Regions from separate parts of the Homo sapiens genome. Here region 1 is linked to region 2. Evidence: fine-mapped QTL for protein levels in blood plasma. Region 2 holds a variant in brackets. A gene starts in the other region. All regions are shown on their reverse strands.

Region 1 (5,379 bases), not on the chromosome of region 2:
TGGGAGGCGCGGCTGCTACCCAGTGATTTCCAAGAGGCAAAGTCAGACTTGGCTTTTAACCCTGTCCTCTCTGAAAAGAGTTGAAGAGCGCCTGGCTAACCCGGCAGATGCCACCCTGACCTTCTCTCTATCTACCCGGCACATGCCGTTCCTACCACCAGTCCTTAGGGATAATGTCACCATCTGAACCCTGAAAGGAGAATTCCCCATACCTGCTTAATGGTGTACTGCCAAGAGGGAGGATCTATTACTTAGACACTGAGAAATGATCGAAATGTGAGATTAGAGGGTAAAATACAGCAAACCTCTCAACCAAAATGGCGTTATTTCAAATGCAGGCAACCTTGGTGATGTGCCCCCCACTCCTCACCCCATCACTAGTTCCCTCATCCTGGACCACCTTAAATGACTTTAACTGGGGGAGTAATCCAAAATTTAATAGGATTAATTTAAACACCCCCACTTTCTTCCTTCAACCTGGCTGCTTCTGGCAAGAGCGTTGTTAAATTTCCCCATAGATTGCAGCGGACAAAGAAAGATTCAGCCTAAAGATTAGGAAACAGTCTTGACAGCTAAGAAGCCTGATTTCTGTACAGGCAACGTTTCCACTTCGCAGTCTCTTTCCAAAGGTTAAAGGGTAATGTAAAAAACAAACAAACAAGTAAAAAAAGCTAGGTGCACGTCTCTATTTAGGAAGGAGGAGATGTTTTTGGTTTTCTCATCTTATTTCGTGCTGCTCTTCCTGCCTCCAGTAAGTTGCTGTCATGTTGTAACAAGTCCGGTGAGGCTGAATCTGAACAGAAGAGGGAGAACGAGCCCGCGCCAAGAGCTACGCCGAGACGCGCCGTCGGTGGGGCCACGCGAGATGCAACCGGAGAGTTTAAAACTAGCCCAGGACCAACCCCCCAGGGATCCGCTCAACTCTCCCCGCAGAAGAGTTTAAGTGGGGCAGTGGCCGCCACAGGCTGAGGATGATTTCCGGACGCGCCCCAGGCGCGACCGCACTACTCGTCCTCAGTTCAAAGCCTGAGTGACTTGGCACCACTTCCCCAATTGTTTTTTATTTCCTTCGCATCCCTGTTGTGTCTACCGCTTTCACGTATTTGAGAGCCTAAATCATGTTAAGACGACTTGGAGAAACGCCCGATTTGCCTCCCAAGCCACGCAAGGATCCACCCAGACGCACGCCCGCGCGGAGACGCACGCTGGCACACGCGCTCACACACGCGAGCACACACACGCGCACACTACCCGGTTCGTGCGCGCGGGTCGCTGTTCCTGTTGCATTATGCAAAGGTGGCTGGGAAAGCGCGTTGACTTACATTTACATAGCCCATCTTCTCCCCACAGTATGTGACTAATACGTATCCCGGGGAGGAGGGAGCGCGGCTGGGGGTGCTAATCGGAAGGGAACAGACAGTGAGTGCCATCTTGCTGGGAGGTTCCAGAAGCAAAGCGCCAACGACGACAGTAGCGGTGGCCTCAGCTCCACCAGTAACTGCCGCTGGCAGGAGCACCACACGCTCTAGGAGTTTCCCGGGTATCAAGTATGGGTCCAGCCCGTCCCAGTTATCCTCTTCCCCTATGGCTTCATTCCCGTTGTCAGTACCCCGACCTCAGCTTGCAACCTTGATCTTGGGCTTGATTATAAATGACGAAAGACCGCGGCAGCCTTCAAAGTGCGGGAGCGAGCCCCGTACTGGTCAGCGCGGCGGAGGGATCTTTCCAGGAGGCCCCAAGCCCCCAAGCCTGTGGAGAGACTTGGTAACAGCTGGCAAGGCCTGCTCCAGCCACCCTCGCTGGCTCCTTGCCCCTGCATTCAGCGCCTGAGGGCGTTATTCGCCCTCTCCCTGCGTCCCACGCAAGCGGCTCAAGGAACTCACTCGATCCGGATTCCGCCTCGTATGCTCTCCAAGCCTTCGCCACCTCCGCAGGCGCTCTAGAAAGGCGTGATGGCCCCAGCTCAGTGCCCGCCAGCCCGAAGAGGACAAGCAGGGCTGGAAGGGACTTGGTTTTGGAAAAAGCCCCACCCGCCCCCACCAACTGGAAGGAAAAGGAATTAGTATCCACCGCATCTGTTTAACTGCTAATAGATCCCAGATTACGGGCAGGTAGTAGGTTGGTGTCTTTAGATACAACAGCCTGATAATAACGCTGGTGACATTAACAACAGCTTGTGGAGGGGAGAGGGTTGTTACTGGTGAAAGTTAAGAGATTCAATCTAGGGAAGTAGGAGACTGAACTCTGACAAGGTTAGGGGCACTGAGAACCCCAATTTAGCATCGATGCATCTACCAGGCAAGAAAATTTGCGTTTTGACCCAGAACTCAGTCATGATGCTCCGTAGAGGAGGTGGATTCGACCAGCAGACAGATGTCCCCAAAGTCGAGAGAGAGCTAAGCTGCCTATTTTCTCTCCAGGTGAAAGACAAAGCCTAGAGCACCCCACTTAAGATGACCACCCCCAGCTCTTTCAAAAAAAAAAAATCCCCCGAAGAGACAGCGTGGTGCCAGCGTAGCAGCAGCTCGGCCGGTTACTGGAAACTTCACCTGGCAACGCAGCCCCTTTTACCTGACGGCTGCGTCTTCTCCTTGCAATGGGCTCATCCGAATCCGACAGGGTCAGGGAGGTGGAAAGGGAAGACGCTGGCGCGGCAGCAGCGGGGATCCCGGGGCATGGTATTGTTTTAGGGGTCGCCGCCGAGGTCCCTCCTGCCCATCGTTGAGAACTGCCACCCTGATCCCAGGGCTCGGTGGACACGGCGGCGGGAGCGGAGATGCCGCCTCGCCGCTGCTGGGCACCAGGGACGGAGGACCAGAGGCGCACCTCGGAAAGGAGTAGCTCAGCGCCTTGGCGCGGAGATTTGCGGGCACTGATGATATCTCGAGCGCTCGTTCCTCCGCGGTGACAATGGATAATGCCAAACGCGCAAGTGACGGCGACAGGTTTCGAACGTACAACTAACTACAAGGTACCCAGCCTGAGACAGTATGCTGCTTTTCCCCTCCTCCTCCTCTCCCTCCTACCAGGGAGGGAACTAACTTAACCCTGTGTGCGCCTGACACTCCCTAGAGAAGCTGGGATCGACTAGGAAACCGCAGGCAGCGGCTCCCGGGGGCGAGAGCTTTGTTCACGTGCGTTTCCAGTGGGTGTGTTGCTGTCTAGGGGCACTCGCGTGGCAAGACGCCCGTGGCTGGCTTCCAGCGCCCAAGATTCAAGGAAGGGAAGGAGCCCTAGCGTTTCATCCGGACCAGACCCAGCCCTCGGAGTCTATTTTTTGCCTCCAGTTACCGGATTTATTGAAGTTGCCAGCGAAGTTGGTTTTATTCCTTTACTTCTCTGCTCTCCGCCCCCGTCCACATCCCCCAACCCTGTATTATTTCCTGTCCTAGCTGCGCTTTAAAGATTCGGAACTTTTCACTCGTTCTAGCTACAGATTTTAACTGTGTTCCGTGTGCGAGACGAATTGTGGAGGGCACCCACCCACCCATGCCAAGTGTAAATGAAACCGCAAGAAAAGCTGCCTCCCACTCACCCATCCAGTGTCCGAGTAAGCCTAATGACACACATTCACATAACTAAGAAGACACGGGAAGATAGGGGTGCGGAGGACGGAGTTTGATGTGTGAATGGGAAATGGAGAGAGGGGACAGCGCGCGCGAGAGAAACAGCGCGAGCCTGAGCCTTAGAATGGAATAAACGGGAAACACACACAAGAATGACGATGCAAAAAATGTATCTAAGTCCCAACATTGACAGCAGAGGGTCAGCTTTAAGCGCCTACATTTTGATCCGCGAAATTTCCCAGCTTTTTTGGAGGCGGTTACATAGAGAACACAGGAGCCTCTGCCTTGGCCGCCCAGATGCTTTGCATTTTGTAAACAGCTTTGACTAAGTGCTCTGGACTTCCAAGAAGTTAACTGGAGTGGAAGGCGAGTCATATTGTGGATGCGGAATGGAAGCTTAGACAAGAAAAAACTGTCAGCAGAGCGCCTCTGCTCTCACCGTCACACCCAAATGAGCCAGGACGTCGCTCAGAGCGCAAACTGAGATCCACACAGGGACATCTTCAACCGAATCTTTCTTCTGTCTCCATTCCGGACTAAGGAAAGAAAGAAAGAAATACGGAGCCTTTATAGAGTATTCAGAGGCTACACACATGGATCTTGCTGAAACGGAGTTATTTAAAAACAGAGAAAGTGTGTTTTCCCATGAGATAGATGTTATAGTTTCTCTCTGAAACATACCCAAGTCTATGGGTGTCAATAATAGCCATTTCAAATGCCTCTCTGAGCCTTGCCAGCCCCAGAAGAGGCTGTGGGAATGCTGCTTCCAGCTTCCCCTGTGCAGAACTCCGTTGTAAATCCTTCTGAGTTTCCAAGGTGGCAGCAGAGCATAGGGATAGCTCCTCAAGCTCCAGCATCAACAAGGAAGATCACATTTTAGGACAAATACTCATCTACCTGCATTTAAACATCCATTTTCGTATGTAAGTGTACATAAGTATCCGCAGGAGGTTCTTCCTTTGAAATCTTGATCCAGGAAAGCAGCATAATTATTTCATCTTTAAGAACACATTTTAAAAAGGCAAAGCAGGATCTTTAAAGCAACAAAGGTTTTGCTTTCTGATTTATGCTGCTAGAAAATGAATGAGATTGAAAATGGGGGAGGGGGTGGTTGCAGATTTACAGAATTCATACTTTAAATTATTGGTGTTTCTAAACCATGAGCAAACCATGTTATGAGTATGTGCCACCTATTAAAAGCTATTGGTTGCATCTATTGTAATCACGACAAGGAAAATTAAGTAAGAAAAAATATCACGCCAAAGTACAAGCAGAATCGTTGTAACAAATTTCTTATGCACATGACCTATGAGTCAGCTTTAGAAATGTGTGATGATGGGGCCAGAGGAAGCAAACGAATAGGAAATGTGGCTCAGGGACTCCAAAGAGCAATAATTTTGCAGACTTAGAAAACTATAACAATTAGGTTACTTTATTTTTATTAGGAAACTCACTGATCCATAAGAGAAGTGGGTGAAAGAAAAACAAAAAGCAAATCTGCAAGCTTCAAAAAACAGAGGGTCAGCCCACTATTCTTAAGACTTCAGTCCTCAATAGTTTTCCTTTCAATTGAAATTGATTGTCATCTCAAACACTTTAATCCCCCACCCGCGTGTTTCTTACATCATTCCCCATCTATACACACATAGGTACCTTGGCCTTTCTTTTCTAATACTTTGTGAAAGTAAAAATAACACAGTATAATAAGATCATGATTTGAGCTCAGTTTTGATCTTGGGTAAATTCAACTCTGAGGTGCCTCTTCATTTTTAAAATGGACATTAAAAAAATCCCTGTTCTGCCAGCCTTATAA
Region 2 (5,379 bases):
TAATACCAGAACACTGAAAGTCACAGCTTACAGGTTAATCATTTGGGGTTAAAAGATAAATCTCTGAATAGGAATTCCCAACAGTCAACTGTCTAAACTTATATGTAAAATAATTAAAAGAAAACAATGATAAGGATATACAATGTGAGGCAATCATATGTTTCCAAAATATTGATGGGATGACCTACCCTAGTTGGGTATCTCTTTGCCCTGCCTTGATATCTGTCAAATAACCAGAGTTATTATGGCTTTTCAAACTACAACTGTTTAGCATATAACTAAGCCCCTACTAGATACTCCAGTAAGATTTGTAATAATATGAAAGTTTATGAATTCATAATTACTCTCTAAATAAACAAGAAACAGAGGCTGCTACCTAGGTGAGACACTGCCTCAGCCTGAGTTCCCCAGGTAGCACCAACACAGAAATCCGCAGTGGGAATGGGATTTGATGAGACACTGGTCGGCAGTCCCCACAGGAAGATAGTTGGAGTCCATGCAGAACTGATTGCCACAGCTGTGGAGACAAGTGAAGCCAAATGGATCTGGAGAGGCATATATCCTCCTCCAGGAATTGGGCCTATAACAAAGTGGCTTTCTCACACTTGAACTTCCTGACATGCCACTATGCATGATACATTCATTTCTTGACTATATTTCAATATAGCAATATGGTTCAGGATTGAGGCTTGAGGTCAAAACAAGGATTTCCAGTCTCTGCCTCATCCAGCTGACTCCCTACCTCCATCACTTATTACTCCTATATAACCTTGGTTGTATTTACTTTGGCTTTGATCACCAAGGATTTGGGAAATATGTTCCAGTCAAAGCCAGGATGTGCAGCCCAGTCCTCTCTTCCTCATGCCCTCCTTTCTTCTGGTCCCCTATTATATCAGGGTCTAGTTCTAACTAATGCTGTGGAGGCACCAATTTCCCCTCTGTAAGTTCCTATGCACTAATCTTCTTGACCTGTTGAACTCCTTTCTTAAGCTCTTTTCTCTTTGGCATCATGACGTCCCCCTATAAAAGCACTGTCTTCGGTGGATTCATCAGACCATACAAGTTTGGGAAATGCAGCATACGCTGTCCCTGTCTTGGAAATTCACAGTGCATAATGAGTAATACTGCAAGAAGTAAATCTATTTAATGACATTTAATTCTGTACCTTCCAAACTTATCTGATCCTAGAACCCTGTTTTGGACATAACCCCTCTTGACATTCTATAGACCTAATATTCTATGGAGTGGCTATGGAAATTCTTCTCTCTTTTGTTCTATACTCCCTTTCATTGATCTATTGTTTCCACATTATGTATATAATTTTCAACTCTCATTCTGGAAATAGTGCTTGCAACTTAACTATCCCTGTTTGGGGTTTTTCAAACTGTGAATGCTTATCATAGACCAAATGACATGAGTTTACTTTTCATTTCAGTGTTTCACTCAGAACTGCTTCTGGCAACTATATTAAAGGCTGCACTTTGGTGTGTAGTGCGAAGGGTTATTAACAATGTTTTTTAAACAATGGAAGGGGTTTATATCTGCCCCTCAAAAAATCTAATCATTTGGTAGGGAAGCAGTATAGAAGGATAAAAGGAACTAATCTCCATTAAGGTTATGTAACCACAGAAGAACATCCAGCTGTTTGCTGTTAGTTTACCATAGACAACAAATAGGCTGAAAAAGTCAGTTCCATTTGAGTCTTAAACTTGTAAGAAGAATGATAATTACTAATTTTTGACAGTGGAACTCTAACCTCCAATGGAGAAGAACCATTGATAATTTATGCCATATATTCTGATCTCCTTAATCATTTTTACAAAGCTCAAAAGGGAAGTAGGGGTGAGGAGATAATTACTAAAGTTGTTTCTCCAGCCTAGGGTAAAGTAATAGATCAAGATCAATTTCATTTAGACCTGAACAAAATAAGAAGTCAGTAACCACAGCCAACTGTGTAAGAACTGGAAGAGAGATCAGACATATTTACATGGCAAGGTGTTTAAGCTGTCAACACCTGAGACTCCTTAGTAAGTCCCAGACACACCTAACTCATTCTTTACAAGTAGGAAGACTTGCCCATGTAAAGATGCTACCAATCAGCATGGGGAGACAGTTTTTTGCATATCTCAGCCATGCAAGCATCTGGAACAAATCCACTCAGATTGATAGTAGGATGTGTTAAGTCTAGAACTGTTAAGAGGTTACAAAATTTTCCCTTCTGCCTCCTGCTCCCATTCTGAATATGTGGATTTGACTTATCTGAGAAGGAAGGTATTGGCTCAACTAAGGGCTTTAATCTTCAGACTTACTGCAAAAACAAGTTGTTATCAGTCTATGCATACTCCACCTGGATCCAGAGTCAAGAACTGAGAATATTCAACCTGTAGGCTCAGCCCCACCCAGCCTGTGACTCAATGAGAACCAAGCCTGGGTGTTTATTAGATGTAGAGTTCTAACAAAGGGAGGGCCCTGGTATTAGCCTCGGTATTCTTATCTGACAACCAGCACAATGTACCCAGGGCAAACTCTTTAGGGATCTATGCACTTACAGAGATATAGCTGAATATTTAGGTGTGGAAAGCCTAAATACCTTGTCATATAAACATGCCAGCCCCCAACATGTATGGCCAGCCCCATGACCAAGCTCCAAAACCAGTTCTTTGTTAGCATTCTATGTCCCTAAGGGAACTGCAGTCCTTCCCTGAAGCTTGGCTCACTGAGCTAAGGTCTTGGATCCCCTTTGCAGCCAATGCAAACTCCTCTTCGGGAGCTGGATCTTGCTTACTTTCCCTGTTAGAACTGTGGTCATGACTTAGTCCAGATGATTGTTCCTATAAGCAACGG[A/G]GATGCTCTCCCTTGAAGACTTAAATTGCTATCATCCAGACATCCCTACCCATAAGAATAAACTTTTTAGATATCAGTATTGGTCTATATCTGAGGAAATTGACTATGCCATCTTTGAGACTAGTTTCACTAGTGCTACCCTCATTAATCTCTAAAACTCTTTCCTCTTACCAGACAGTCCATACTTCATGGTAGAACTAACTGAACCCATGACAGGACAAAGAAGTGTTGGATACAGAAACACAAATGGCTATTTCTTTTATTTTGTCCATGTCCCAAGGAGTAATTTCTTTAACAAAACTGGGCAGGGGGGTAGAAGCCCTAAGTATGGAGGACACTGAGTGTGAAGTGAAGGAGTGTGGACCTCTGGAGTTCACAAACATACACAGGACTCCAGGTCTGCTGATTACTTCCAAGAAAACATGAATTTCAGGGGTTACCTCATGGGCCTATTGCACGTAGCACTTGAAGGAGAAACTGTGGATTTTACCTATTTATTGCTGTATTTTCCAGATGAGAGAAAGGAGCTTAAATCACTAAGAATAACAGATTAACTGGCATAGGTGAAGATTATATTATTTAATAAAGACATTCTTGGTTAAATACATAATGGTATAAAGTACAAAATATTAAGCAGCAATTAAAAAGGATGTTAGATCTTTAATAAGACCCAACTGAATATTCATAGTATACTCTTAAATAAGTTGCAGAGTAGTGTGTATAGTATGACTCCATTTTTATAAAAAACAAAACTAAGCAATAAACCTCTGAGTATGTGAGATAGATAGATATATATATATATATGTTTAAATAAACAAAGAAGAGGCAAAGGAGAGAAAGTAGACGTAGACAAAGGCAAAGGCAAAAAGAGAGAAAGTAGAAAGATCCACATTGGACTGCTAGTTTCTGTTACCTAAACATTTTGATCCTCCCTAGTTTAAATCCAGTTGTTACATTAAGAATGGTTTACTTTGTTGACTTTTTCCAAATTAATACAGAGATTTCAGGAAGATTATATTGAAAATAAACTGGACGTTCAATGTCACCTGGGTACTTTCAGTTAGTGAGTCCTATAATGAACCATTTTGTAAATTGTATGAATGGCCTAATATATCTTATTTGTAATGTAAATATTGATATCTGTGTTTCTGTAGAATAGTGACCCACTCTACTTTACAGGCCTAGTCATCTTACATAGAGAAAGCATTCTGATCTTTAGGTTCCTTTGTTCCAATAAACATCACATTGCCAAGATTTTGAGTTATAATCCTGACCTGTATTACCACTGTGTCCATTTCTAATGTCACAAAAATATTAGCTATTATTACTCTAAGCAGTCACCCACCATCCGTATTTAGGCACTACATATAAGGCACTATGGAGGCAAAGGTAAATGAAAATTAAGCACTGCCTGTGGAGGTCCTTAGTCTAATGAAAGACACTTTTGCCCTACCTAGCTGGATAGGATGCAAATGGCAGTGCTCTGGGGAAAGAGGTGGTGTTGGGTCTTCTGATTCAGTGAGAAAAATATGGTGTTGCCCTCTTATGAGAAGAGTAACATGAAGGTACTCCTGAAAGCTGTAAATCCCGGGACAATGGAAAAAAAATGAACAGGAATAGTGGTGCCTGAATCATGGGAAGTTCCTTGCAGATCATGTCCCCTAGACCTGGAGTATTGTCTCTCAGTCAAGAGTGACAGGAATATTTATCTGTCCTATTAAAGAGGATGTTTGTCATCATTGTGAGAGAGATTCTAGTAGCTGGGGTACATTTAGAAATGAAATTGAGAGCTAGGGGTCTGGGTGTCTTATGAGGCATCAAGGGATCCAATGAGAACTTAGTACAGTGTTTCCCTACATTCTTGACCTGAAAAAAAACTGGGGCACAAATACTGAGACTGAGATGGTGTTAGCCATGACAATTCCTTCAGATTTGCAATGCATTGAAATATGTGCTCAGTTAGTATTATTTTTTTGAAACAAAATGTTATCTCTTTTATCATTACACCACCCCCAAGGTTAATGAGAAAATTTTTACATGTGTACCCAAAAACAATCATCTGAGATTTCTGCCTCTGCCAAAATGTAAGAGGAAAGCATGAGCTGCTGAAACAAAACTTCAAATGATTAAACAAACTGGGTAGCTTCGTCTAAATCCTTGAGTTTTCAGTTCCAGGAGCCCTGGGGATCATGCAGTATGTTCTTTTTACACAAATAGATTTTTCAGAGAACTCAGGAAAAGCCAAATAAATCCTCCTGAATTAGTAGCTGCTTGCTGTACAACCAAGGCCTTCAAGTGTTGAAGAGAATAGTTTAACTAGGATTTTCTCAAACTTGTTTTAGAGGGAAAATGCTGATTACTTTATTAAGATCCCACATGAGGTGTGCCAGCTTGATAAAAACATTAACAGACGGATCATCAAGAAGGTCGGCAGCAAATATTCAGATGTGTGGAAACACTTCCCACCTCTCAGCTAACAACAAAACCCCAGACACCCGCACATATTTATATGCATGAAGCAGATGAAGAAACACA

Which allele goes with the higher level. Alleles are on the strand shown, and positions count from the first base shown. The strength of an association depends on the size of the effect and on how common the allele is.
As copies of G replace A in region 2, the plasma level of the protein whose gene starts at base 2,962 in region 1 goes down (moderate association).

The links. PIP is the chance, under the fine-mapping model, that this variant and not a neighbour inherited with it causes the effect. Protein levels are from antibody-based Olink assays in UK Biobank. Linkage for the fine-mapping came from a reference panel and not from the study's own genotypes, which makes the PIPs less certain.
Region 1: it holds the start of FLRT2, and the variant in region 2 is fine-mapped to the plasma level of the FLRT2 protein (UK Biobank, PIP 0.92).

What each region holds. Positions count from the first base shown.
Region 1 is chr14:85,527,727-85,533,105 of GRCh38, reverse strand. FLRT2 (fibronectin leucine rich transmembrane protein 2) reads right to left here and starts at 2,962. Exons shown (of 2, transcript NM_013231.6): 1 at 2,572-2,962. FLRT2-AS1 (FLRT2 antisense RNA 1) reads left to right here and starts at 1,447. Exons shown (of 2, transcript NR_184170.1): 1 at 1,447-4,489.
Region 2 is chr20:14,646,891-14,652,269 of GRCh38, reverse strand. The region is part of intron 4 of MACROD2 (mono-ADP ribosylhydrolase 2); the gene reads right to left. Among named protein-coding and RNA genes, the nearest start is that of MACROD2-IT1, 95 kb to the right of the region's middle. The variant A/G (reference allele first, on the strand shown) is at 2,845.